4 linked regions of the Homo sapiens genome follow. The protein of the gene in region 2 interacts with the protein of the main gene of each other region in a biochemical or structural test. Each region holds a gene or a part of one and is shown on either strand. Other genes may lie near its edges.

Region 1 (7,036 bases), about 60 Mb from region 2:
GGGAATGTAAGGAAGAGCGAGAGTGGTCGGGCTCATGGGGTTTGATGGACTGTGACCCAGGCTGGCGTTGCTCCTCTCCGGATTTCACTCCTGGCTGAACTGGTGCCTTCGGTAAACAGCTGCTTAAAGAGTGCGGGGACTGCTGCAGGGACTTCCTTTTTCCACTAGGCGGCACCACAGCCAAAGTGATAAGAAGTCAAGCGTGGGGCGGGTGGCTGGAGATTGTCTCTTCCCCTCCTTTTGCTCAAGAATTCGTCCATTCCTTCTCCAACTCTCTTCACCACCACCCCCGCCCCCATCTCCACTCTCAGTAGCCCGAGCCCTCCCATTCTCCACTCCTTCGACCCAATTCCACTAAGTCAAGAACCGTGGTCGGTCTCAGCCACTCACTCAGCGCCACTCTATGCTCCGAAGTCCGTGTAGCACCACCGCTCCCCGTGTTCTCTGAGCTGGCTTAGCTTGAAGGAACCTCACAAAACCAAGCCCGGATCGCTGTCAGCCACTCACTCAGTGCCGCATGGAGCTCCTCGGACAGCGCAACGTCAAATGTCTTCGTATCCTGAGAGCTCGCTCCTTGACCAGAAATCTCATCATAAGAGGCCAGGAGACATACTGGAAAAGTGACTTTCCCAGCAGACGAGGCCCGAAACAGGGAGTGGGATGGGGCTGAAGAGTGGTGATTTGGTGGCCCCGATGTAGTTCTGCCGCCTTTGCGGGAGAAGGAAAGGAGAAAAGAGGTCAGCGGGAGCACCTCGGCAGCAATCCTCCATTGCCAGACAGCACAGCTGAGCTCTACATACAGCAGGAGGGATGGAGGTGAAACTCAAGAAAGTACACCTGAACAAGTCGGAGCGCCCTCTGTTTCCTGGCAGAGGTGTAATTTGGGGAGGAACTGAGGAAATGGAATAAATGAATTCATTCATTTATTCATTTATTCCATTTAGTGGAATTGGGTGGATACAGCATTTTGACCACCTGTAGACTTAGAGGTCCCTTAGTATTCAGAGACAGGACTCTTACCTGCAGAAGATGACCCGGGCTCTGAGGTTTTGTTCATTTTATGATTATTTTTCTGTAACAAGCCCCCTAAAAATTGGGGAGAGAAAACCTATTTGGTCTTGATAACCAGAAGCTGCAAATTAAAAACAAAAACAAGCACCCTGCCATCATCAATCAGAACAGTCAATGGTTCTCAGTGGGACCCATTCCCCACCCAGGGGGAAGTGTGGAAACCTTTCAGGTTGTCTCAGTGACAACAAGAGTGTGGTTCTCTACTGGCTTATAGGGCTTTCTGGGGCCTGGGATACTAAGCATTTAACAGGGCAAAAGTCATGGAGCATAACAAAGATGGCCTTTCTAAACACCGGTAGCTCCTTTTGTGGAGAAATGCTGGTGGAATAGGATCCCTAAATCCTGCTCTCTGGCTTTGGAATGCATTCTGTAGTTTCTGGCTTTGGAGAAAGGAGTTCTAATTCTCTCTCTTTCACTTAATGATCATATGACCTGGGTAACTTACCTCCCCTCCCGGAAGCTACATGGACCTCACTGTAAGTTGCAGATAATAACACCTATCTTGGAGGATAGTTGTGGGGTTTTGAAATATTAGATGCGCACATAGTGGTCCTTTAAGAAATGGTACTTCTACTGTTATTGTCTTAGGTGGCAGAACCATATCTAATGACTTTAGCACAGGCTGTTATTACAGTGGGTCTCCATCCCCTGAGCTGTACTGACCTCACACCCAGAGGAGTTTGCCTCGAAACCTGCTGCCCTGTAGGGGCAGCAAATACTACAGAGGTGGAGCTGCCTCCTTCTTGTCCCACTTTTTCCTCCCTGTCTCTAGGAGTGAAGAAATACATTTGTAATTTTCTATTACTTCTGAATACTTCAAAGTTTGGGATTAGTGACTGTTTTGTGAGTTACCTGAGTTTAAAATAATAAAACAACCATATGCCTGTTCTCTCAATTGGCTGAGGAATCGGCATTCACTTATATCTGGCCTTCATGTAATCATAGAGACACAATTCTTCCCCTTTTCTCACTTTCCCCAAATGGCAGAAGCAACCAACCATCATTTCTCACTTACAGCTCTTCATGTCATTTTTATTCATGCTTTTGAAGAATCTGTTTTCATCTTTTTTCCTATCAGCCTGGAGTTGGTCTGGGGAATAAAGAATGGGATGAAATGGTGAGAGTCCAGAGGGGTTGAGCAAAGAACTCACTATCACACAGCAAGGCACTAATTTGAAATGCCTGGGAGAAGTAGAAGCTGCATTTGACTCTCATATTCTTATTGGACCAGGAAGGTATGCAACCCTTGAGAGATGCCCTTTCTGATTTCCTGTGGTGACTGCCTAGCCCAGCACTGTCCAGTATGAATGATGAATGTAATCTGAGTCACGAATGTGAGCCACTTATATATTTTTAAATTTTCTAGTAGTCACATTTAAAAAGTAGAAAGAAACTAGTAAAATTAACTTTAATTATATATTTTATTTAACTCAATATTCTCAAAATGTTATTTCAACATGTATTATAAAAATTATTGCTATCTTTTACAGTCTCTTTTTACACTCAATCTTGTGAAATTAATGATTCTTCACATATAGCATGTTTAAATTTGGACTAGCTACATTTCAAGTGCCTGTCAGCACATGTGGCTAGCAGCTACTAAATTGGACAGTGCAGAGCTAGCCCCTTTCTCACTGCCTGACAAAGGTAGGTGCTCAGGACAAAGAGTGCCTTGAGGCTTCACCCTTTAGCTTCAGAAGGCCTACTGTAGGGCTAACCACCCAGGAGCCAGGTGGGGTAAGGGGGGGCCCCACTCTCCTAAAGCCTGGATGGCAGTCCTGCCCTCTTTCCCATGAAAGAGGGCTTGAGAGGGGGAACGAAGACAGAGCTCCTGCAAGGGGAGGCCGAGTGCCTTCATCTCCCAGTTCACCCCTGCCAGAAGAGACTCCTTTTGCAGGTAGAGGATGAGCCCAGAAGCTGGGGACAATGGCCCATTCCTGGCCTAGATTTCCTGTAGGGGTGCTGGACTGAGTGGAGAACTATAGGGTGGAGCCCCTAGATGGGGAGCTACTTCTGGCCCCAGCACCCTTCCCCCAGTGTCTTGCAGCCCCAAGACAGCACAAGACAGCCTGGGGCTAGGTAGTGGGACAAGCGTGGGTAGCTTCCCTGAGAGCCACCAGCCCAGTCATGGGGACTGCTCAGGGGAGACGCGGGGGCCCTCTTAGGAGGGGTCTGCAAACCTAGAGCATAGGAAACACTGCCTGGGAGCACTTCACCTACAAGGGCCTTTAGCGGCTTCAGGGCCCAGCCACACCCTTCTCCACGTACGTGTTCCAGACCCAGTCACCCCGAGCAGGGAGAACCAACCCTCATAATAAGAACTGTGGAGATTGGACCTGTGGTATAAGTAGACTCCCTACCACCTCCTGTATTTCCTAGGCTTTAATAGGGCCAGGTGGCCATTGTGCCTTCTTCTTTGGGGTAAAAATAAAATAAAAATAAGAGAAAAAAAAAAGAAGGAAATAGGGCCAGGTGGGAGTTGGGGGACTGTGTGTGTGTGAGTTTGTGTATGTGAAAGAGGGAAAGAAAAGGGGGATACAGAGTAGAGCACACCAGTCTCCCCAACTCCAAACCTGATGAAGTGGAAAGGGCTGGGCTCCTTTATTGAAATTCCAAACTAGAACCAAACTATTCTTGACCTGAAGAGCCTAGAAAGGTGCTGGATCGGGCTGGACGTGGTGGCTCACGCCTGTAATCCCAGCACTTTGGGAGGCTGAGGCGGGTGGATCACAAGTCAGCAGTTCGAGACCAGCTTGACCAACCTGGTGAAACCCCGTCTCTACTAAAAATACAAAAAACTAGCTGGGCATGGTGGTGTGCGCCTGTAACACCAGCGACTTGGGAAGCTGAGGCAGGAGAATCGCTTGAAACCAGAAGGCGGAGGTTGCAGTGAGCCGAGATTGCGCCACTGCACTCTATCCTGGGCAATAAGAGCAAAACTCCATCAAAAATAAATAAATAAATAAACAAATAAATAAAGTTGCTAGATCGGCTGAGATCATGCCCAGTGGGGTGGGAGGAGCTAGACAAAGCAGAGCAGTTAGTGGACAAAAGAAAAGCTCAGACAACAAAATTAAGAATAAAACAAAACATGCTTTCCTGTTTATGTCTGCCGAGTGGAGATTCCCGGCTGAATGGGTGGAGATCTTGGGGCATTGCCCTGGTCCTCCTTTTCCGTAGTCCCAAGGGGAAGTGTTTGTGTATGGGGGGCTGGGGGTTGGGGTGGGGGAGGTGGGTGTGGAACTCCAGGTGATAATTTCAGAAGATTCCATCTAGCTGTCTTTATGCCCACCTTAGACCAACACAGTCTTCACATTAAGGGGAGTCCTTACAAATACTAACCCTTCTTCCTAGTTGCAAACACAGAAAGGTTTATGAAAAATATCTGGCGAACATCTAAAACCCAAGTCATCCACTACTGTTCTGCTGATTTCTGTTTCCCTGTAAGGCTGGAAGAGGTTTCTCCCCAGAATGTCACTGATTTTGAATTTATTTTCTCTTCTTCTGTAGGCAGGAGGAGACACCAGTGTGCACCAGAGAAGGAGAAGTCAGAGATGACAGTCCCTGCCTGAGGCCATCTCTGGTCCACCAGACAACTCATCACCAACTTCCCAACAGCCACTGCTCTAGGCCAGGTGTCCACATGGGGAATAGGTCCAGGCCCTCTATGGCTCTCGCAGGAGTCAGGGAGGCAGATAAATAACATATCACAAAGACAGAATATAAGAAATGCCTGGGAGGAGGCATACTGATGCGTGGAAAGTACTCAGCCAGAAGCCTGGCACTAGAAGGGCCCAGGGATTGTTGGCATGTATGAGTCACAGTTCCATTTCAGTGGAGTGAGCAGGGAGAGAATCTCCTGGAAGTAGGTGAATAGAGAAAATACAGCCTCTTCCTTACCTTTGAATTTTTTTAGGCTCCCTGTGATGGAGTCATGTCTTGATTTTGCTTCACTGAGTTTTTTCTCCAGTTCCAGAGGAACAGGGGTTGGGTTGAGAAACTGAAACTCTTCACTTCTAGGAAGATGTGGTTGAGCTGGTTGGTGAGATCAGGGGATGAGGTGTGGGAGAAGGAGGATCTGAGATACGCGGTTGAGAAATGAGGGGATGAAGACCTGGGGGTAGAACTGAGAGCAGTGGCTCACACCTGTAATCCCAGCACTTTGGGAGGCTGAGGCGGGTGGATCACCTGAGGTCAGGAGTTCAAGACTAGCCTGGCCAACATGGTAAAACCTGGTCTCTACTAAAAATATGAAAATTAGCCAGGCTTGGTGGCAAGCGCCTGTAGTCTCAGCTACTTGGGAGGCTGAGGCAGGAGAATCACTTGAACCTGGGAGACAAAGGTTGCAGTGAGCTGAGATTGCACCACTGCACTCCAGCCTGAGCAACAAGAGCAAAGCTCCATCTCAAAAAAAAAAAAAAAAAAAAAAAAAGAAGACCTGGCGGTTAAGGGATAGTGAGCTGGGAGTCAGAAAGTCAGGGCTAGGGATATGGGGCGGGAGTGAGGTAGGGCATAGGGAGATATGGAAATGAAGATGGGAGATGGAGACAGAGAGGAGGGAAAAAAACAGGGTCAGGGAGACAGAGTAGGGGACCCAGGAGCTATTCAGTTGAGCAAGGGGGCATTCAGGAAATAGTAGAATCTGTGCTGAAGAAGGAGGAAGGCTGAGAAAACAGCTGGTTTCTTTAACAACCAACCACGTGCTAATATGGTTGGCATAGGCATTCCCCGGCTGCAGCCTAAATGTATGAATGCAGAGTTAGAGGTGGGTGGGTATTTCTGAGAGAGGAATGTTGACTGCATTTGGATATACGCTGAGAATTGTGTGTGGATGAATCAGTAGGCAAAATACATTTGGGGTGGCCCATCATACCTGCACAAGACGACTTTGATATCCTAGAAGAGAAAGAGAAACAGCACAGCCTCAGCACTTGGCTGATTCCCAGGAGCCAAGGAGGAGATACAGAGCCTGCTGGGTGTGGGGCAGAGCAGGAGGAGTAAGAACCCCTCCAAGTCTCTCTTACCCCATCCTCCTCCCCTCTCCCCACCACGAAGGGCTTCTCCAAGAAGCACTGCTCTGCCAGTAAGCAGAAAAGTGTTTTGACCTCAAGAAGAACTGAGTGAAGAAGAGAAGAGTGAGATTTAGAAGATGAATTTGGCTCTGAGACTGAACAAGGGAGCCTGCTAGCCAGGGCAGGAGAAAGGCTAGAATGGCTTTGCATGATCTTTCTTAAAATAAATAAATAGGTTTTTGAACCTGTGGGAGAATAGATGACTTGAGGAGGAATCATCTCAGCTTATTTTAAGCACCAGCTAGACTTGCACTGTCCAATATGGTAGCCACCAACCACATGTGGCTACTGAACATTGGAAATTGTGGCTAGTGTGACAAAGAACTGAATTTTTAATTTCATTTTTACTAATTCAAATTTAAATTAAAAATAGAGGCCAGGCACGGTGGTTCACGCCTGTAATCCCAGCACTTTGGGAGGCTGAGGTGGGCAGATCACTTGAGGTCAGGAGTTCGAGACCATCCTGGCCAACATGGTAAAACCCCGTGTCTGCTAAGAATACAAAAATTAGCTGGGCGTGGTGGTGGGGACCTGTAATCCCAGCTACTTGGGACTTGGGCCTAGGAGGCGGAAGTTGTAGTGCGCCAAAATCGCGCCACTGTACTCCAGCCTGGGCAACAGAGCAAGATTCCATCTCAAAAAATAAAATAAAATAAATAGAAGAAGGGTAAAGTACTTTTTCCATTAAACACAACTTTATTGATTTGGTAAGACTATATTTTACTTTAACAATTGACAATTTAGCATCTGAATTGAGATGTGCCAAAGTGAAAAATATACACACAATTTCAAAGACTCAGTGTAAAAAAAAAAAAAAAAAAAACCACCAAAAACCCAGAATGTGAAATATCTCATTAATACTTTTAAAATATTCATTACAGGCTGAAAGGATA
Region 2 (7,036 bases):
CTAATTAAACAGTTTGAATATATCAAGAAGTATTTGCTAATACCATAAAGCTTGTGGGAAATCCACTTAGAACAAAACAATTTCTAGAAAGTATTAAGAAATTTTGGAAATTAAGTATCACCCTTCTTTACAATTAAAATGTCATGTAGGAAATTTGAGATATTCCCAAAGGATGGGCGGTATTTTTATATTTAATTTAAAAACATTACCTATGAGCACATTCATGATTGGCTTTTATGTCCACTAGTGTCAATTCTACAGCTTGTATTCTTCTATTAAAGAAAGTGCACCTGAGTAAGTTAATGTTTGATATCTGAGGGGGGAAAAGCCTAAAAAGAATATTTAATAAAAGGTATTACTGAATAATATTTTCATATGAATAGCACTGCTGCTCTGGCAATTAAGAGAATTAAGGTTACCTGATTCCATAAAGGCCCAATGTCATAAAAGAGGATCTCCCTGGCTGAAGAGCTCTCCTTAATGTGAACACTAAGAGAAAGCAAGAAGAAATTACTCTAGCTTCTCTGACTTAAACAAAAGAACAAAAAATGGATGTGACTTGGAGTCAGAAGATCTGGGTTGGGGTCCTGGCTATATGATTCTGGAAAAACCACTAAACATCATCAGATCTAAGTTCTTCGTCTGTTAAACAGCTATAATTTCATCCGATAACCTAGTTGTAAGATTGTATAAAGGTAAAATAAGATGTACTTTAAGCTACTTTGTAGGGCACAAAGAACATCTAATCAGGGGTTTTCAGCCTCAGCACTGCTGCCATTTTGGGCTGGATCATTCTTTGTTGGAGAAGACTGCCTGGTACACATCAGGATGTTTAGCAGCATCCCTGGTCTCTGCCCACTAGATGCCAGTAGTACCTGACAGTTATAAACTATTATTCTTTCCTTATTTTTCCCTCCCCCATTATCTTGTATAGCGTGGGCTACGCTGCCATATATAAATTTATTCTTAATGCTTAGTCATAAGATTACACTGCCATCTGTCTAAATTTTCCTGATTCCCTCAAACATTTAAGGGAAGCACAGTTCAGCGGTATGTAAGTTTAAATGCTTCCACCTCTTTAAAGTACGTCCCTTATACACAGTACCTTTCCGCATGGAGGTAAACTGATCTCCATGTAAAATGATCTCTTTGTTAATTTCTGAAGCAGTCCAGATTCAATAAATAAAAATTACCATGTGAAAAATGGGTTAACTCTACTCTTTGAATAGCAATAGTAATGATGTTGTAAAATAAGAAACCACTTTGATAACCAGGGGAAAATTAATATAAGATAGTTTTATACAGACAAAATGGCACCTAAGAATAGTATAATTCATATTTTTGTATGCTAGTTTCTCACCAGGGGAGATGCTCAATAGGTCTGTTCATTTATTTAATAAATGTATTTATTAAACACTATGTTAATATGCTTAATATGTGAAGCACTGAGCCAGCAACTGCTGATACAATCAATAATAAGCAACAACAACAAAATAATGCACAAAGATATGGATTCTATCCTTACATAGTTTTCAGTTTAGTAGAGGAGAAAATAACCATTAGGTATTCAACTAGAATTATCAACACTGCTAAAAACACAATCACAGGCAAAGGACAGCATGCTGAAGAATTCATCCAACTCGCACTCATGAACGTGTGTGGAAAATATGTATTTCCTTATCAAGATTTTGGGTAAAGAGGTAGAGAAAAGCCTAAAGGGATAAATAAATGATAATTTTGATAATACATTAATCAATACTGAAGGTCAATATGCCATTTAAGTTTCTATTAAAAATGGTAACATATTCCTCTATGAAATGATCACCATAAGAAATAAAGCAGTTTACCAATTTTAGACACTAAAGTACCATGTGTAAGTTAGGTATAAAAACATGTAATTTATGAGATTCTCCTGATAATACACAAAAATCAGAATTGACCAACTATTTTACATGATTCTTTGGCAAGATACCCTGCAAAACAGCACATCTCATTTAGCTTTACTTTTTGTTTTCCAGGTTAAGGCAAAATGCTATTTAGCAACTCTCTTCTCTCAACTTCACATTCACTTGCTACCAACAGAAAGAGGTTAGGACAGAAAGTCTAGAGGGGACCCAAAAAGCAGTAACTGAGGAAGGAAAGGAGCCAAGGAAAATAACAAATTTTAATTAGTTGTTTCCTCTTTCTGTTGGGTGCAAAAAAGGTCTGGGTTTAGCTCATGTGCTCACTTAAAAGTAGAGAGGAAGTTGGTAGAATTCTGGGTTGGTGTTCTCCCTTCTCCAAAAAGGTTTACTTTCTCTTCTATTTTATCCTCACTTATTGTAGATCAGAGGTATCTTTTCAAGACTGCTTCAGAATAAATGTAGTTTTTCAATCTGTCTCCCTAATTACTGCATGCAAGGTATCCATTTTCATGTCTTGTAAAAATTGGAGCAAGAAGCATTTTACAAGTACCAGGGATCATTATTCCGGTTCCACAGCTATTAGACCAACTCAGGTGGTCTATGATACCTGATATGACGATCTCAGGGACATCCAGAATGTTGCCAAATGAAGCAGTTTTACGGTGGCCCCGTTTAGGCTTGGAATAGGCTGCAAAAACACATATATACAGTATACATGCAAACAACCACAAACAGTAACACGGAAAATGATTAACTACAAAAATAGACTCATTTTCAAATAGTTCATGTTAATAACATTTCATGCAGAATGGCATGCAGAACTACCTAACTTTTCATCCATGCTCAGAAAAGGCGAGATTAAAGAGCAAACAACTACCAAATACAAGATGTTTTACACACTGGTTTTAATTAGCAGAAAAAAATAAAAAGAACAGAGACAAAGCTGCAGGGTAATGAGGAAGCAAAATTTCAAATATATTCATAGAAACAGTCTACCTAAGTGAAATCACTGATCTGTGATGGGGGTGGGGGAACGAAGGAGGAGAGGAAGAAAGGCGTTAAAAAGTAAGTTGTCGTATTTGTTTTAATTACACAAACACAGGAATACATGTTCAAGTTAGGTGTTTCTTGAAGTGTGCTATAAAGTAAAATCCAATGATTAAATAATAATTATTGAATCAAAGTGTGAAATGTATATGCTTTTGTAGTCATACTTATACATATTTCTAGTACCAAATATTTATTATATTTTCCAAAGTTTAGGGTACATTCACAGTAAACACAAAGTCTGTCAAAAGGCTGGAAAGTATGACTCTTTCCAAGTAAGACAATTCATGAAAAAATTTAAATTGTGTAAAACTCAAGGGATGTACAATAGCATTTGTTCTACACTTAGGCAAAATTTTAATGTGTGTGGTTATCCTTCTAGCAAAGTCATTTCTGTAAATAATAATAAAAAACCAGTGCTTGACTAGAAATATGATACTAGCGAAGACATGAAACCATTATTATAACAATTTTCAGTTTTGAGACAGCAATTAGTATGTGGCAGATCTATCCTGAACAACATCCCTGAAGTGAAAAGGGTTCCTCAAAGCATGAGGGTATGTCCCGGTGAGTAGGGTTCATCTGACACTACAGTGAGACAACCCTGCTCCAAAGAAATACTTGTGACTCATGGAGACTCATGGGCTTGTCAGTGGCTGGTGACTTCTACTCAACTTGATAGTTTCTGAAGACCCATCTGTGGCAGACACAGCTATCTTCTGCCAGTTTCCACTCTTCCCTTCTGTTTTAGCAATAGTACTCTGATTTTATTTAGGACAGAAAAGTCATCAGATAAAAGAGGGCAGATCTCCTCTTCCCTTGGAGCTACGTGTAGCCATTCGACCATGTTACTTTGACCAATGATGTGTGGATGTTGTTAAGAGAGGCATCTGGGAATGTTCCTTCAAAGAACTTGGATGTCTATTTGCCCTGCCCCCATGTCTTCCTTCCTATTGCCTGGAATGTAGAAGTGATGAAATGGAACTTCAACAGCCATTTTGGAGCACAGGATAACTTTGAGAATGGAAGCTATACAGTAGGGATTACAGCACAGAAATAGGAGACCAGTTACTTCAAGATCACAGAGCCCACTACCTCCAGACTTGTTTATATGTGAAAAATAATGCTTATGTGTTATAGACACTGTTATTTCGGATATTCTGTTATATCTAATGGATTCTAATAGTAGCTGATAAAATCAATGATCATGATTAGTTGAAGACAAGTATAGTATGATGGTCCATCTTGACAACTTCTTTCTGAAAAGAGCTCCACACACAATGAGAATATTCTATTTAGAAAAAAACCAAATAAGTGAAAAAAAGACCTAAAAAATTGGTTAGCTAAGTTAAAAAAGATGCAAATACACATGAATATATACATTTATACACATACATAGTTAAAAGATGGGGTAAATACACAAAAATGTTAAGTGTTTATCTCTGAGTGGGGTAATTATGTAAGTTTTTTTGGCTTGTTTACATTTCCACATTTTCCACAACAGAAACGTGTTTACTTTTAAAATCAGCTCCCCCTGATCCCTGGAAAGAATCAGCAAAAAACCAAAAACGTCCAAATTAAACCAGCATTACTAAAATGAAACCTGGTCACAGAATTAGGTTGTCAGTTTACTTAAGTAACAAAACATGTAATTGTTTTTGTGCTGACCAGTTCTTCCATGATTAATAATTTTAAGAACTGAACAATGGAATTTAAATGCTAGCTTTTTCAAGATCTAATAAAATTATGATATTTTATTTTACAATTAAAAAAATTAACCACAACCAGCTTAGCTATTATTTTGTCACTGGAATGAAGAAGCAGATAGAAGGTCAAATCATACATGGATCTGGAATACATTTTTCTGTTAAATTTGAAACAAAATATTTGCTATTATTTGAGTTCAGCACAAAAATCTAGTAGTATCACTGAAAATCCCCAAAATATTCTGGTTTTGGCAGAATTTCAATTTCTCACTTAGACTTTCAACTCATGTTTGAGCAGAAAGAATTACATTTGATAAAATCTGTAAATGAGGAAGGCATACTTTCTCATCCAAATAATTTTACAAGTCATACCTTCCTTATTTGGAATTTGAGATAAATGCATAAACTATTGCTAGTAACTTAGAAAAATATATTGTAAACCTACTTCCTATTTAAAAAAAAATATAAGACACACACAAAAAACCTTTGACAACTGAAACTACCATGGCCAAAAAGGCTTATATACATTTTCACTCTTCAGACTTGTAGTTCCTTTTTACCTGTGGTTGCGGCGATCCTAGCTTCTATTTCAGACATGTCAGCACTCATCCTCTTGCCCTCAGAGGTTGGGGGCAAGCTCTCCACACTGCTCCCACGGGAGGCTCCCAAGCTTAAACGTCCAGATTCACTCTGTTAAAATTACAGGTCAATCTGAATTACTGAAGTTCTTTAGATTTAGCAATCTTAGGCAACCTAAAAGGAGGAAGATGGCAAATGGGATTCTGATAGATCCTGTTCTGCTCTGAAAGGAGAGGGAAGTTTGTACGAGAGGGAGCTACAGGGGTAAGGGAAAGCAAGCTGCAGATACTGTCTTTATGAAAAGGCAGTCACTAGAACTGGGAGCTAAAAGCCCCAATTATTCGTTAACCTAAATGCCTCAGGCAAAATGAATAAACTCACTCCTTGAAATATTTTTAAAAATCAACAATGGCAAAAATATAATAAATCTGAACAGCATGAAATGATAGACTTAGAACAACTCCTCTAACTGGGCAGCGCAGCCAAAATATACCCATTTTACATTTTTAACCATCAACCATTACATTTAGGGATTATTATAGATAGGGATTTAGAATTGGCAAAGGTAGCAATCATTAGAAGGAAAAACCATTTGGTAATAAATGGTAGGAGAATCTCATTACGTGTCTCTATTTGTAAGCTCTTTTGCATGTTTCAGGAAGAAAATTCAGGATTTATAAAATAGAAGATGGTAAATAATTAATTTCAGTTAGTATAATATTGTGACTACTGGTAAGGTTACCAGTTTTACTTGTAATAACATAACAAACCTGTTGCTTTGCCTGATTTTTCAACAATTTTGATTCTAAGCGCTTAATAGTATCATTTGTGGCAGGAACTTGCTCCATATTAGTGTCACTTTTGTTACTCGTATTTGTAGAAGCAATGTCCATGAATGAGCCTAGGAAAAGCAGAAACATTTATGACTAATGGCTGGAAATAATACAAATGCTTCACTTGGTATTATGTAACTTACATTCTTTTATAAACTAGCCAGGCAGGAACAGAAATAAAATAAGACTTTTCAAGCTAATGAAGATATCCAAACAAACCCATTTTAAGAGAAACTTAAGGATAGCACAAAAAAGGAACCAAGATGCCTAAATAGTCTTCTAATAGTCAAGAATAACTTAAGGTTTTTAACCTGAGCTAGTAGAAGAACTGAGGGCTATTAATTGAGATGCGGAAAGACTAAAGGAAGAGTGAGTTTGAAGGAAGTATCAGGAACTCAGTTTGGAAAATATTAAGTTTGAGTTTCTAGTAGATGTAAAGGAAATAGTTGGATATATGAGTATAGAGTTCAGGTATAAGATGGAAAACATTATGAGCCAACAGATGGTATATAAGGCCATAATAATGAATGAGGTTACCAAGGAAATGAGTGCAGACAGATAAGTGAAGAAGCCAAATGAGCAGGCCCTGGGCACTCCAACATTTCTAGGTTGGGGAGATGAGGAATAACCAGCAAAGAAAACTGAGAACAGACGGCCAGAGATGTAAGATGGAATCTAGGCTAGTATGGTATCTCGGAGGCCAACTGAAGAAAGTGCTGTCTGTAAGAAGGAGAAAGTAATGAATTAGGTCAAGTGCTACTGAGAGTCAAGATGAGAAATGAAAATGATTCCTTAAATGTAGTGATGTAGAGATAACTAGTGACCTTGACAAGAACAATTCTGAAGTACTGGCATAATACGTCTGAATGGAGTCAGCTCAAGAAAGAAGGGGAAAAGAGAAGCTAGTGAATGCAAATACAGACTACGTATGTTTTAGGAATGATCCAGTAGAAAGCTAAAACTGATG
Region 3 (7,036 bases), on a different chromosome or scaffold from region 2:
AAGTCTTTGATCCCACGACTCCGTCTTGGCAGACTGCAGGGGAAATTCAGGTCTGGCCTGTAGTATTTCCCTGAAGTATAAATAAGCATCAGACGTTCAGTTTCATCAAGTTAGTACAGATTTGTTCCACAAAACTCCCAAGACCAAGACCCACTCTAACAGCAATGTTATTATTGAAATTATTGTCAACTGTGTTGTTTCTGAACATTCTCTGCAACGTGGCTTCAATTTGAGAAGAAAGTGCTGCTCAGCTGTGCACACAACATTTTCTCAAATGCAGACAACTTAGGTTTCAGCCCCAGGAACTATGCAACCCTCTTTGTCCTCCCAAAATGCCCCATGAAGATTCACTCTTACATTTTCCTGATGAAGAACCTGATAAAGTGTCTCTATGACTAGTTTAGTGTAACTCGGTAAGAATCTGAAGTTGGCATCAATGATCCATCCCCCTAGCTTTAAACGTATCCTTCTTGCTCAGGGGACAGAGTGCTTGAGCTGGAGATGCCTGTGTTGTGCATTCTTTAGTCAATTGCTTGAAGCCAGGCTGGAAGTGGGCTCACTGGGACTGTCTCCCACCAGAGGCTGCCCGGTGCCAGGGTTCACGTGGAGTTTGACCTTGAGTTCTAAGATCTGACAGTCTGGTAGCAAATCCTGGCATCACCATCTCCTCACTGTGCAGCCAGAAATAAATGACTTCATCTCTCTTATCAGTAAAAAACAGGGAAAGAGTAGCGATTGCGAGGTGTCAGTGAGGTAACACCCATAGCCCAGAGTCTGACTCAAGAGGGAGTGGTCAACGAGTCGGGGCACTGGTCTCATGTCACCACGTCAGGATGACTGATTATCCTCACACAGGACACCACGACACACTGCTCCCTCCAGTGCACTCTGGTTTGCCTTCACATTCTCCAAAGGGACCCCAAGCCTCCTGGTTATTAGGAGGTTCCAGCAGCCACACTGACCTTCCTGAGACCTGCTCTGCCATACATAGCAGGCCCTGCCCTTTGCACCCCAGAATATGCCAGGCCCCTTCATCCTGGCCCACAGCCTTGCACAAACCCAGAGTCAGGGGGCAGTGGGGGGCAGCAGGGGTCAGCGGGGGGCAATTTTTCATGCCTGCATTTTAGTTTCCATATAGGAGTTTTCTGAAGACTCCCTCCCTGGGATTTCCATGGGCAGAGACTCTTGTTTGAACACTGCATTTTAGAGGTGTTTATTCAATGCCAACATTAGCTCTTGGGAAAGGCAGTTTTAAAATCAGAGAGAAAGTCCATCAATTTCATTGTGTTCTCAAAGGCATCTGTGATCCCCCTCTAAAATGTCAAGACACTCCATTTAGGTATTTTGCTGTCATTGACACTTCAGCTGTGATCACTCTGGGGGCAGAGGGCAGAGCTCAGGAGAGGACAAGGATGTGGGGCAAGGTCAGGTCCTGATGGGAGCAGAGTCTGTGTGGAATATGGGGTGAGGTGAGGGGCCCTGTGAGGATGTGGGTGCCTGGGCCAAAAGTGAGCTGAGCTGGGGAGAGGCCAGTAGAGCCCCCCAAATCTCCCTTGTGTTCCCTGAGGTTGGTCACCTTGGGGGAGGACGTGGCTATACCTCCTTGTGATTTATTAAACCCTGCAATATACAAAATTCAGACAAACTAGATGTAATTCTTCACTTTATCAAGGGCCTCTCTACCTTGGGAAAAGATCCACCAGGAGTTTCCTTTCAGATGGGGATTTCCAGTGCCTTTAAAATATTTTCCCTTATAAGTGACTTGATCTTTTGTCCAGATGACCAAATATTTTTTCTTTTTCTATGAAGTTCAATAACTATTTTTGGTGTTGATTGTTTTGTATTGGTTCTCCCCACCATGGACAAGGTGTGTCAGTTCAATCTATAGCTTCAGTAATTCAATAGCTAAAAAAACTGTTTTATTGAAAAAAAGTTTCTTATATGTTTGTTAATGCATCCTGATAGCCACCTATTGTCTTATTGTTGCTTTAAGCTCTTGTATCTTTACTTGATCTTGTTTTATAGAGGTGACCATATTATTAGCTCTGTGAGTTCTTGGAAATATGCTTGATCATGATGTTATCTGCTCAGAATCTTTTCTGGTGTGTGATTGTCATCTGCCAATGGTTTTCCCTACTCATTTACCACTTTCTTGGGTCTGCTGGGCTTCTGGAGGGGGATCCCAAAAGGGTTCGGCTAACCTAGCAACTGTGAATTGATTTTGTCACTACATTCAATGCCTTAATTTATGTAATGGGTCATGGCTTAGAAATTGTGACACTACAGGCTTCCTATTAGGAGATTAGCATTGATGTGGACATTGATCATCAATACAGAGGTTGGCTTGTGGGTATGTGTATTTATAAGCACTATTCTTACTTCCTGGCATTCAGAGGAGAAAAGCTGGGGTGTGCAAGAGGCATGTTCAAGAATACGTCCATCTGTTAAGCAGCATAGCCAAAAATTACATCAGTTAAGATTAGGTTGGAGAGGTTCCAACACAGACACTCAAATGCATACATGGAACACCCCTGGAGGAAGATGTAGCAGGCACGTTTTCCACACATACAGTCTACACATGGTCATTCTACAGAATGGTGCCTCAGGGGATCTGGTGCCATGTAAGGTCATTAAGAAGGAGATCTCATTGGTTAGATCTACAGTGTTTCTGTCCGTAGACCCGCCTGAGTGTGACCTACCATCAGGAGTGGAGCATTGCTGCAGCCATGCCTTCCCGAAGATCTGATCCACTCTCTCCCCGTGGCGAACCACCAGCACGCTCTTCCTTGCAACGGTAGCCTGGGGGGTGGGGCAGGAAGCAAGGCACATGCAGTTTAACATCCAACTCACTGGACTTGCACCAATGGCAGCTCTCCCAGTCACCCAGCAACTGCGAGGGAATCTTTTCCTTCGTTAGTCAATAGCTCAGCCCATTTTGCCCAAATCATTAGAATGAAAGAGGACATGAAATTGACAATCTCTTCAATTTCTTCCAATGTTTTATTTTCTGGGCATTCTAACATCAAGAAAATGAAAAGAGACAGGATTGGCCCCTATCATGACACATCCGTTTTTCTACTTTTCTGTCTTTTCTAAGTCCTTATCATTCCCATAGAGACGTCTTAGGACATTATCCCTATCTATATTATAATATGTATTGTTATAGTATAGATTACCTATCTATATATCTAGTCTCCTCTCTTGCTGGCACACTTCTTCTGAGAAACCCTCCAGGACTGCCCTGGTGTTGACCTGTTGAGGGGCCGTCCTTTTATGGCTCCCAGGTATGAATTCTGCTTCTGAGCACCAAGGGGAGAAGCCCTCATCCATCCCCTTGCTGTTTTCCCATAGCTGGTCATTCTCTGTTTGGCTGAATGCTAAAGGAAAACAGTACTTTATAGTTTATTTACTTCTTCTCGGCATGAGACTGGCCTTGGCGGTGGCCAGCAGCTTCGAGCCAGGGACAGCAGCTCTCTGGCACCTTCCTCCCCAGCCTCAGGCAGCCGCAGGATGGCCTTGGAGCCTTGCAGTTACAGGGCTCACGCCCGCCCTCTTTCTGGGGAGCCTGTGCTTTGGGGAAGTAGCCCAAAGGTCATGCTTGGGGCAGCGAGGCTGGCTACCCTTTGGGAGGGGCCTCCACTGTGTGGGATGGTGTTGTGGGGGGCTCTGTCCTCAGGGGCTAGGCCACCCTTCTCCCCATGCTGTGCAGGGCTGATCAAGTTGAGGGACTGGCCTTGAGAGGAACCCACAGCAAATGAGATGAAGAGAGTGAATGAGAGCTGAGGATGCCCCCCCTGGGACCAGAGAGCAGAGTGCTAGGGGCCGAGCCAGCTAGAGGCCACCAGGACAGCTGCGTGGAGCATAAGCCCTGCACCAGGACCCTGGAGGGAGACACCAGGCTCGGCTGCTTCCCTGGAGGGCACTAATGTGCCAGCTGACATCGGCCCTTCACCTACATTCCCAGCCCCAGAGCCAGGCCCAGGCTATCCAGGGGGGTCCATTTCAGAGCAAGAGGTGGGGAACCCTGCAGCAACACAGGCCCAGTGGTGCTGCCCTCTGGCACCCAGGACTCATGCCTCAACCTCCCTGTGACATGGCACCGCAGGGGGGAGCATGTCACATGCTGGTCCATGAAGCTGCAGTCCACAGCATCCCTGCTTTAGGGAGCTGCAGGTCTCCCTGGGCCAAGGGATGAACATGGAAAGATGAGTCATTAACAGAGATGGTGGGGGCAGAGCGAACACGGCCTGCCACGGGAGGTGGGCTGTGGGGCCTTCTGGGGACCAAATCCTGCCTGGAGCCCAGGCGACCAGGGATGGACGGGGTAGGGAGGACCCCTGGGCAGGAGGCAGCTCAGACAGGCACTATCCCTGCCCTGCTCCCTCTTGGCCACACAGCTCTCTCTGGGCTAAAATGAGAGGGCAGCTCTTGTGTGTGTTTTCCTACTGAGCAGGGTAAGGAAGAGAGGTGAGGAGAGGTAAGCCTTGTCTGCATAAACCCTCATACACCAGCCCCAGCATCGCCCTGATTCCCTCCAAATCCTAGAGAGGAAAATGCAAATGGCTTTAACATCCAAACACCCTCAGGGAGGAAGGGACTCATTTTCCACCTGGCCAGTGCAGCTGATCATTCCTGTCTGGACTTTCTTCTGTGAACAGTGATCCAGTCTCAAGGGTCTGCACTAACTGGCCACTCGCTCTGGCAAGAGTGGTCCCCCGTGGTGTCCCTGTACCTAGGGAAGTGATTGGAAACTACTGGGAAGGAAGGGACACCAGAAAGTAGGGTGGGGGCCAATTTCACCTGCCTTGAAAGCATTCTCGGGGTCAGCACCACGGGCAGCTCCTGCCAGATCCTGTGGATCCCTTGTGAAGTCCACGCTGGCCCGGACGATGCAGAATTTCCAGCTGCTGAAATTTATCAGGACCAGACAGTTCTCGGTGGCCCTGGCTACATTTGGTAGGTGCATAAACTATGGGATTGGTGAGCCAGTGAGAACGTTTGCAGTCACCATGCAAACACTTTCTTAGGGTCACTGGGCTGAGTCTTCAAAACGGATATACGGTAAGGCCAAGTGAATAGTATTGCTTTCCCTTATTGGAAAACTTCAGTTGTTTGTTTCAGGATAGAAACATGCATCTCCTGGGGAACAGCTTCAGGGGAAGGTTTGTCTTGCTGTCTTGCTCTCTTGCATGTGAAGTGTGGTTATGCAGAGGTTGCCTACACTGACACCAAGAGGCAGCACCCACCGCCCCTATCCCAGAATGAATATTAAAACATCCTAGAGAGCTGTAGAGAGCTGATCTGCAAGTAGATTGCAAAGCATGCATGCTCTTGGAAACTCATTCTGCCTAGTAACAAAGTCCCTGAAGTTTTCAACTTGCGGGCTGAAGTTTTGGATTTGGGGTATTTTCTTCCTGGAAGAGCTCAGAGCATTTTAAATGTTCTTCTGTGGAGCTTTGCCACAGGAATATGATGATAAAGCAAAAGAAAGCCCTGTGGGGAGTGGAATGGACTGACCCCTGGGATCTATGGAATGAGGCAGGGCTGCACCAATTCTCTAGACAGAAGGTGCTGCATTGGTGTCCTGGGGCTGCCATAACAGGCTGGGCGGTGCCAAGCAAGAGACATTTATTCTCTCACAGCTCTGGAGGCTGGAAGTCCAAAGTCAAGGTGTTGGCAGGGCCATGCTCCCTCTGACATTCTAGGGGAGAATTTATTCTTTGCTTCTTCCAGCTCCTGGTGGCCCCAGGTGTTCCTTGGCTTGTGGCCACATTGCTCCAGTCTCTGCCTCTCTGGCTGCATGGCCTCCTCTGCTGCTGTATCAGATCCCCTCTGCTTTTCTCTCATCAGCACACTTGTGATGGGGTTTAGGGCCCTCCTGGATGACCCAGGATCATTTCCTCATTTCAAGACCCTCCACTCAATCCCATCTGCAGAAACTCTCTTTCCTAATAAGGTCACATGCACAAGTTCCCGGGATTAGGGCATCATCTCTGGGGCCATGATTCTACCAGACCTGTGGCCAGTTGTCTTTTCTTACTGTAGGGAAGGGGTGAAATCCCTATAGAGAAGACCGTGTGAGGGGGGCCAGTTCACAGGCAGATGCATGTTCTGTTTTCAGCCATTGAAAGCACGGTTTAGACACAGGCTGAGCTACGAGCAGAGACTTCCATTCCAGGCTCTCCCCCTACCCAATACCTGGGTACTTCTCCACAGTACCCAGGTATTGGGTCAAATGTTATTTTAGATGTCACTGTGAAGGTATTTTTTAAAAATGAGATTAACATTTAAGTCACTAGGCTGAGTAAAACAGAATGGTCTCTGTTTTACTCCAGATGATAGGGTTGTTGGAATCCATGGTACTAGCTCAATCTTTTTAAATAGCTGAAAGTCCTTATTAAAAACATTTAAAGCTTTTTAAATAATCCCCAGGCCACAGCCCTGGGGAGTCTCGGCTCTCCCAAGTCTGGGCCTTTCTCACATGGTGAACGCTGATCGCCATTTCTCATGGACCCAGCTTCAGAGACACATTCTTGATTTCTCAAGAAAAGGCCTCCTCACCTAGCCACCAAGGCTGCAAAGACCTGCCAAGGCCACTTAGCTTTGGGCTGATTTGCACCAGCTGCCAGGAGGTGCAAATGGCGACAGGGACGCTGCGTGTGGGTTGACTGTTTAGCTTCCACAGCAGAAGTTTACTCTCCCACAGTCCTGGAGGCTGGAGGTCAGAGATGATGGTGTTGCCAGGGCTGGTTCCTTTTGAGGCCTCTCTCTGGGGCTTGCCGGTGGTGTCCCCTCCCTGTGTCCTCACAGGGCCATCCCTCTTGTGTGTCTGTTTCCTCATCCCCTCTTCTTATAAGGGCAGCAGTCAGATTGGATCAGATTGCATCACCTGTGTTGCCTCATTTAACCTTAAATACCTCTTTAAAGGCCTTGTCTACAAATACAATCACATTCAGTGAGACTGGGGGTTAGGACTTCGAGATAGGAATTTTGGAGGCACACAATTCAATCCGTAACAGAGGGTGAGCGTTGACCT
Region 4 (7,000 bases), on a different chromosome or scaffold from region 2:
GATCTCTTGACCTCGTGATTACTGCCTGCCTCGGCCTCCCAAAGTGCTGTGATTACAGGTGTGAGCTACGGTGCCCAGCCTTCTTTTTTAAATTATTTTTTAAAATTGGTCTTTAAATTCTACCAGAATTATTTCCTGATTATTTTTCTGTGTTCCCTCCTATCTTAATTTCTCTCCCTAAAGGCTGTTTAGCACCTAACATAACTCATGCATTAAATAAATATATTAATTTATCTCGGGATTCATGCGTATTTTTGCATTACTTTGTAAAATGTGTTTTTCTAGTATTTCATGTGTGTTTTGTTTGCATATTAAAATTGCAGTTTCCTTTATGGTAAAGGCTTGTTTTCCCAACAGTTCAAGCCTAATATGTATTACTCAGCAGACAGTCAATAAATTAGAATTGGCTGGCTAACAAGTTTTCTTTTTTTTTTTTTTTTGAGACAGTCTCGCTCTGTCGCCCAGGTTGGAGTGCAGTGGTGCAATTTCGGCTCACTGCAAGCTCCGCCTCCTGGGTTCACGCCATTCTCCTGCCTCAGCCTCCCGAGTAGCTGGGACTACAGGTGCCCGCCACCACGTCCGGATAATTTTTTTTTTGTATTTTTAATAGAGACGGGGTTTCACCGTGTTAGCCAGGATGGTCTCCATCTCCTGACCTCATGATCCGCCCGCCTCAGCCTCCCAAAGTGCTGGGATTACAGGCGTGAGCCACCACGCTGGGCCGAGTTTTCTTTTTAAGATGAATTGTGAAACATTTAGCAGCTCTTGAAATATACTTTTGCACCACCCCACCTGAATTCTTTAATATGTATTAGTTCTTAAAGAATATACCATATAATAGTAAATAGTATTTTAGCCTAATGACCAGCATCAGCATTCTACCTACATTTCCAGAATTTAGGTTCTTAATCATTCTGCTTCTTTTCATTTATCCTTCTTACCCACTGAGTTCTTTTTATGGAGTTTACTGTAACCCTTTAATGTCTTCCAGACTAACGCTAGAATGGGTAATATAAATATATGTAAATTCTGTAAAAAGGCACATTCAGCACCTTTTATGCCCTGCCTTGTAAGTTTTTAGCTCATATTTTTACTCTAGCTGTTGCCGAAGTCATCATCTTTTCAGGTCTAACTGGAGGGAACCTGTGAACTTTTTTGCACTTTCTTCCCTAAGATTTCTCTTCAGCCATTTAGGATATGTCTGGCTAAACATAGAGCTGAAAGTCCAGGTGTAATTAACATCCTGCAAGGCAACCTTTAATTCAGGTGTACAGCTCTGATGTACATTGCACGTGATTCCTCAAAGGGTCCCTAGAAGAATCAGTCAACCCCATTGCCAAATGCAGAAATAAAGGCAAGAATGGAGAAGATCAAATGATTATGGAGAGGAAAGCATTAAATAAAGCCTCATACAGCTTTAAGTGTGAAACACATAATTTGCCATTTTGGCGTGTGAATTATGATTGGGTTTGAGCTGTTTACTTTTCTGAAATAATGGCATGAAAGAAAATTAAAGACCAAGAATAGTTCCATTTGCCAGTAGAAAACCAGACTTTTATTCTCTATCTGAAATTGTGAAAGGAAGATCTGTATGCAAGAAAGAATTAGGAACTGTCAAAACATTTTTTCCCAAGCTATCTGAAAGTACTTGATTTTTGCATAGTGTCAAAGTATTGAGCTTCTATGGTATAAAGCATTGAACCAGATGTGGGGGAACACAATAGTGTGTAAGATACAGTCCTTATTTCCACCAGTTGGAGGAGCTAAAGTACCTATACCTGTACAAATACAAAATAATTGGAAAGCTGTTGGATGCTCTTAGATGTTCAAGTTAGGTTAGGCAATACTAACAGTATATACATGGCATTTGAGCCAGACTTTGAAAGATATGAAGGATTGACTAAAACCAATAAGAGACCAGAGTATTTGGTTTTCTGTTCCTGTGTTACTTTGCTAAGGATAATGGCCTCCAGCTGCATCCATAAGCCTGCAAGGGACATGATCTCATTTTTTTATAGCTGCATAGTATTCCATGGTGAATGTGTACTACATTTTCTTAATCTAGTTTATCACTGATGGGCATTTAGGTTGATTCCATGTCTTTGCTATTGTGAATTGTGCTGCAATGAGCATATGCGAGCATGTGTCTTTATAATAAAATGATTTCTATTCCTTTGGGTATATACCCAGTAATGGGATTGCTGAGTCAAATGGTATTTCTGTCTTTAGGTCTTTGAGGAATCACCACACTGTCTTCCACAATGGCTGAACTAATTTACACTCCCACCAGCAGTGTAAAAGTCTTCCTTTTCCTCCACAACCTTGCTAGCATCTGTTATTATTTGACTTTTTTTTTTTTTTTTTTGAGACGGAGTGTCGCTCTGTCGCCCAGGCTGGAGTGCAGTGGTGCAATGGCGGCTCACTGCAAGCTCCGCCTCCCAGGTTCACCCATTCTCCTGCCTCGGCCTCCCAAGTAGCTGGGACTACAGGTGCCCGTCACCACGCCTGGCTAATTTTTTGTATTTTTAGTAGAGACGGGGTTTCACCATGTTAGCCAGGATGGTCTTGATCTCCTGACCTTGTGATCCGCCCGCCTCAGCCTCCTAAAGTGCTGGGATTACAGGCGTGAGCCACTGCGGCCGGCCTCTCGTTGTGTTTTAATTTGCATTTCTCTAATGATCAGTGATGTTGAGCTTTTTTTCATGATTGTTGGCTGCATGTATGTGTTCTTTTGAAAAGTATCTGTTCGTGTCCTTTGCCCACTTTTTTATGGGGTTGTCTTTTTCTTGTAAATTTGTTTAAATTCCTTATAGACGTTGAATATTAGACCTTTGTCAGGTGCAGAATTTTCAAAAATGTTCTCCAGTTCTGTAGGTTGTCTGTTTACTCTGATGATGGTTTCTTTTGCTGTGCAGAAGCTCTTTAGATTAATTAGATCCTATTTGTCAATTTTTGCTTTTTTTGCAATTGCTTTTGGTGTCTTCAGCATGAAATCTTTGGCCATGCCTATGTCCTGAATGGTGTTGCCTAGGTTATCTTCCAGGGTTTTTATAGTTTTGAGTTTTACATTAAAGTCTTTAATCCATCTCGAGTTAATTTTTGTATATTGTGTAAGGAAGGGGTCCAGTTTCAATCTTCTGCATATGGCTAGCCAGGAATCCCATGGTGTGCTTTCAATAATATAGAGTACATCAATATTTGTAAAATGTGAATTATGGAACTATTTCCTGTACCTCATAGGCATTTCAAGGAAAAAAATTAATGACAGATATTACACTGAGTAACAAGGTAGTGTGAGTTTAAAAACAGTTATTGTGCAGTGTGTCTCTTCATTTTCCAGTGTCAGGGAAAAAATGTTATTAAATTTTACAATTATATATGTTGCACAAATGTGCTGAGTCCATTTACATTTTATGGAATAATTTCATTTGTTCTGCACTAGCTGGCTGGCAGAGAAATTGAACAATGTTTGGTGATGTTAAAGTTGTAATTTTGTCAGCAACAGAGTTAGGAAATATAAATATAAATCTGGAACTAAAACGTGTTGTGTTACCTTTGGCTACTCTAGGGGATAAAATATAACTTTTCACCACCACTTCCCAGTGGACTTTTCCTGGGAAGTCAGTTGTCATTGTTCTGGCAAGTTTCTTTTCATCCTAAATTTTGTTATCATTTAAAGAGAAAATCATGAAGGTTATAAAGAAATCCATTTTAGGGTATCTACCCAAAGGAAAATAAGTTATTATATAAAAAAGACACGTGCATGTGCATGTGTATAGCAGCACAATTCACAATTGCAAAAATGTGGAACCAACCTAAATGCCCACCAACCAACAAGTGGATAAAGAAAATGTGTTGTATATACACCATGGTATGCTACTCAGCCATAAAACAGAATGAAATAATGGCATTTGCAGCAATTTAGATGGCGTTGGAGACCGTTGTTCTATGTGAAGTAACTCAGAAATGGAAAACCAAATATCATAAATTCTCACTTATAAGCGAGAGCTAAGCTATGAGGATGCAAAGGCATAAGAATGATATAATGGACTTTGGGGACATAAGGGGGAGGGTGGGAAGGGGATGAGGGATAAAAGACTAAATATTGGGTACAGTGTACACTGCTCCAGTGATGGGTGCACCAAAATCTCAGAAATCACCACTAAAGAACTTACTTATATAACCAAAAACCACCTGTTCCCCAAAAACTACTGAAATAAAATTTTTAAAAACCAAATACACTTTAAAGACAATTTTAAAAAATTACAATAGTAAGAACATGGAAACAATACAAAAATGTGGAATGTAGAAAGTATTGTCTGTGCGTGGTTGCTCACGCCTGTAATCTCAGCTTTTTCGGAGGCTGAGGCGGGTGCATCACCTGAGGTCAGGAGTTCAAGACCAGCCTGGCCAACATGGTAAAACCCCGTCTCTACTAATAATACAAAAAAAATTAGCCGGGCATGGTGGCAGGCACTTGTAGTCCTAGCTACTCAGGAGGCTGAGGCAGGAGAATCGTTTGAACCCAGGAGGTGGAGGTTGCAGTGAGCCGAGATCATGCCATTGCACTCCAGCCTGGGCAACAAGAGTGAAACTCAGTCTCAAAAAAATAAAAATAAAAAAATAAAGTGTCTTCCACAGTTGGAGTATATTCTTTCATACCTTCTCCTATGCCTATATGATAATGCTAAATACACTATATATATATGTGTTGCTTAATTATGCTCATATATATGTATATATATGTTGTAGGATATACTGTACCTGATATTCTGTGACTTTGATTTTTAACCTCAACAATATATTATGGTATTCTTCCTGGTCAGTACATATAGTCCTATCTCATTTTTTCCAAAGGCTATAGAGGATACTACTCTATAAATGAAAAAAACTGAACCTCTGTTGATTAGCGTGTATCATATATATATATATATCAGTATGTATGTTTAATGCATACTTATTTTAAGTTGTACAATTAATAGCTGTACAGAATTTTAAAAACTGATACATTGTAACTTTACATATTTATGAGGTACAGTTTGATGTTTCAATACATGTATATCTTATATAGTGTTCAAATCAAGGTAGTTAGCATATCCCTTACCTCATTCATTTATAATTTAGTTATGTTGGGAACATTCAAAAACCTTTATTCTAGCTATTTTGTAATATACGACACCTTACTGATAACCATAGTCACCCTACTGTGCAACAGAACACTATGGGTTTTTCTTTTTTCTATGTAGATGTGTCTTTGCCTTATTCTAAGCAAAGATTGCCCCAGATACCATCTTTTTGTTTGTTTGTTTGTTCGTTTTTTAGCAGTTTTGTGTGTGTGTGTGTGTGTGTGTGTGTGTGTGTGTGTGTGTGTGAAGTTTTATACTGGTTATGAATATAATTTTGAACAATATATGGTGGACTTCATTGATTGATTTATTAACCTTAGACACTATGTGAGTAAAGCAGGACTGCACTGCAAGGAGATGCTAAACTTTTGACATTCCTGAGAGAGAAGTTTTATAAATTTCAGAATTCCCCTGATTTATGCATGCCTCTCTGTCACTTAATTATGCTCATAAAATTCTGCTTAACTAGCAATGGGATTCTCAACTTGGAGAGAAAAGAGTATGCTACCACTGCAGCCTACCAGAAGAACATATCAGAATCTTTGGGAAAATCTTTTCAAAATATGCATATCTTCCTTCCTACCCCCATGTGGAACGTGCTTACCTGATTGAAAATCACTGCATGTAATTAGTTGTTACTAATTGGAATGTAACTATTTGGGAGTGTGTTGTACAGATAGTGTAAAAACAAAAAACAAACAGCAACAACAACAACAACAAACTTGTCAAAGTAAGAATTATATATATGTAAGCTTTAAGGCATTTAAGTGGTGAAGAGGTTTGGTTTTGTTTGTTTGTTTGTTTGTTTGTTTGTTTTGCCCCAGGTTAAGGGGCATTGTCTTAAATCTCCTCATTTTCTGTTTATCCCATTATTTCATTATCAGCCCTAGCAGAGGACTCTCCTTTATAAAATTCACTTTACAAGAGTTCTTATGTAAACATTAATGAGTAGAGACTAATAAAACAAAGTAGGGATGTGGATGCCGTAGCATGGATGGGGTCATTGCTGAGATGAGTGACTGTCTTCTGCATTGTAGACAAGGGCAAGTCAAATTTGTATCCAGCAAAATCACTGTCAGGGGCCTTCAGTTCACTATAATAGTTGAAACTCTGAGCACTAAATCTGCGAATATCTAACCAAGTCTATCATCTTTTATACCTTTAAACCTAGTAGAAAACTCTTAGAGGTCTGTGATTCTATTTGAAGATCACCTTACTGGGTCCAGTGGATACTAAAAATGACGATGACAAGGACATGCTTGTCTGGAGGGTTGGTTTCACAGTGCTTTGAGCTTTCTCTATAGCACCTGAGGGTAAGTAAAAAGTCTAAGGGGAGAATTTCTAATGGAGTTCTCTCTCTCTGACTGTTTTATCTGCAGACTGCAGCTGAATATGTAAAATCTCGACTCCCAGAGGCCCTTAAACAGCATCTTCAGGACTACGAGAAAGACAAAGAAAATAGTGTATTATCTTACCAGACCATCCTTGAACAGCAGATTTTGTCAATTGACCGAGAAATGCTAGAAAAATTGACTGTATCCTATGATGAAGCAGGTATGTTTGTTTTTAAAACACACATTTTTTTTCCTTGCAAAAAAAATTCATTATAAACCTTGATTAAACTTGGTAAAAGGTTAAGGGCAAACTAGATTCAAAGTTATGTAACATGGACTAATAGTAAGTTTCTTCTCTGCAGTTTTAGTCTCAAGATGGTCAGAAGATTCCTAAAAATGGATCTTAAATATCAAATGCCTTTAAAATTTTGCTGTTTTTTATTGGGATTTTTTTGGCCTTTTATTAACTGGGTACTCCTAAAGTGTTATTTCAACTTTGGATAGCAACTGAAAACTTTTACATCCGAGAATCCAAGAAAT

The links.
Region 1: the proteins of MAP3K7 (region 2) and TRIM31 form a complex in vitro, tested with the Homo sapiens proteins (2 studies listed by BioGRID, with this or other methods).
Region 3: the proteins of MAP3K7 (region 2) and UBASH3A form a complex in vitro, tested with the Homo sapiens proteins (one study listed by BioGRID).
Region 4: of the proteins of MAP3K7 (region 2) and PPM1L, one has a biochemical effect on the other in vitro, tested with the Homo sapiens proteins (one study listed by BioGRID).

What each region holds. Positions count from the first base shown.
Region 1 is NC_000006.12:30,103,082-30,110,117, forward strand, and holds part of TRIM31 (E3 ubiquitin-protein ligase TRIM31), read right to left. Parts: intron 5,968-7,036; coding exon 5,945-5,967; intron 5,107-5,944; coding exon of another isoform or gene 5,088-5,106; coding exon 4,972-5,087; intron 4,707-4,971; exon of another isoform or gene 4,582-4,706; intron 2,307-4,581; exon of another isoform or gene 2,162-2,306; coding exon 2,087-2,161; intron 1,087-2,086; coding exon 1,021-1,086; intron 709-1,020; coding exon 455-708; 3' UTR 165-454; coding exon of another isoform or gene 124-164; 3' UTR 1-123.
Region 2 is NC_000006.12:90,542,041-90,549,076, forward strand, and holds part of MAP3K7 (mitogen-activated protein kinase kinase kinase 7), read right to left. Parts: intron 6,138-7,036; coding exon 6,007-6,137; intron 5,348-6,006; coding exon 5,218-5,347; intron 2,593-5,217; coding exon 2,512-2,592; intron 1-2,511. UniProt on the Homo sapiens protein: Serine/threonine kinase which acts as an essential component of the MAP kinase signal transduction pathway. Plays an important role in the cascades of cellular responses evoked by changes in the environment.
Region 3 is NC_000021.9:42,427,866-42,434,901, reverse strand, and holds part of UBASH3A (ubiquitin-associated and SH3 domain-containing protein A), read right to left. Parts: intron 2,800-7,036; coding exon 2,700-2,799; intron 71-2,699; coding exon 1-70. UniProt on the Homo sapiens protein: Interferes with CBL-mediated down-regulation and degradation of receptor-type tyrosine kinases. Promotes accumulation of activated target receptors, such as T-cell receptors, EGFR and PDGFRB, on the cell surface.
Region 4 is NC_000003.12:160,955,231-160,962,230, forward strand, and holds part of PPM1L (protein phosphatase 1L), read left to right. Parts: intron 1-6,505; coding exon 6,506-6,680; intron 6,681-7,000. UniProt on the Homo sapiens protein: Acts as a suppressor of the SAPK signaling pathways by associating with and dephosphorylating MAP3K7/TAK1 and MAP3K5, and by attenuating the association between MAP3K7/TAK1 and MAP2K4 or MAP2K6.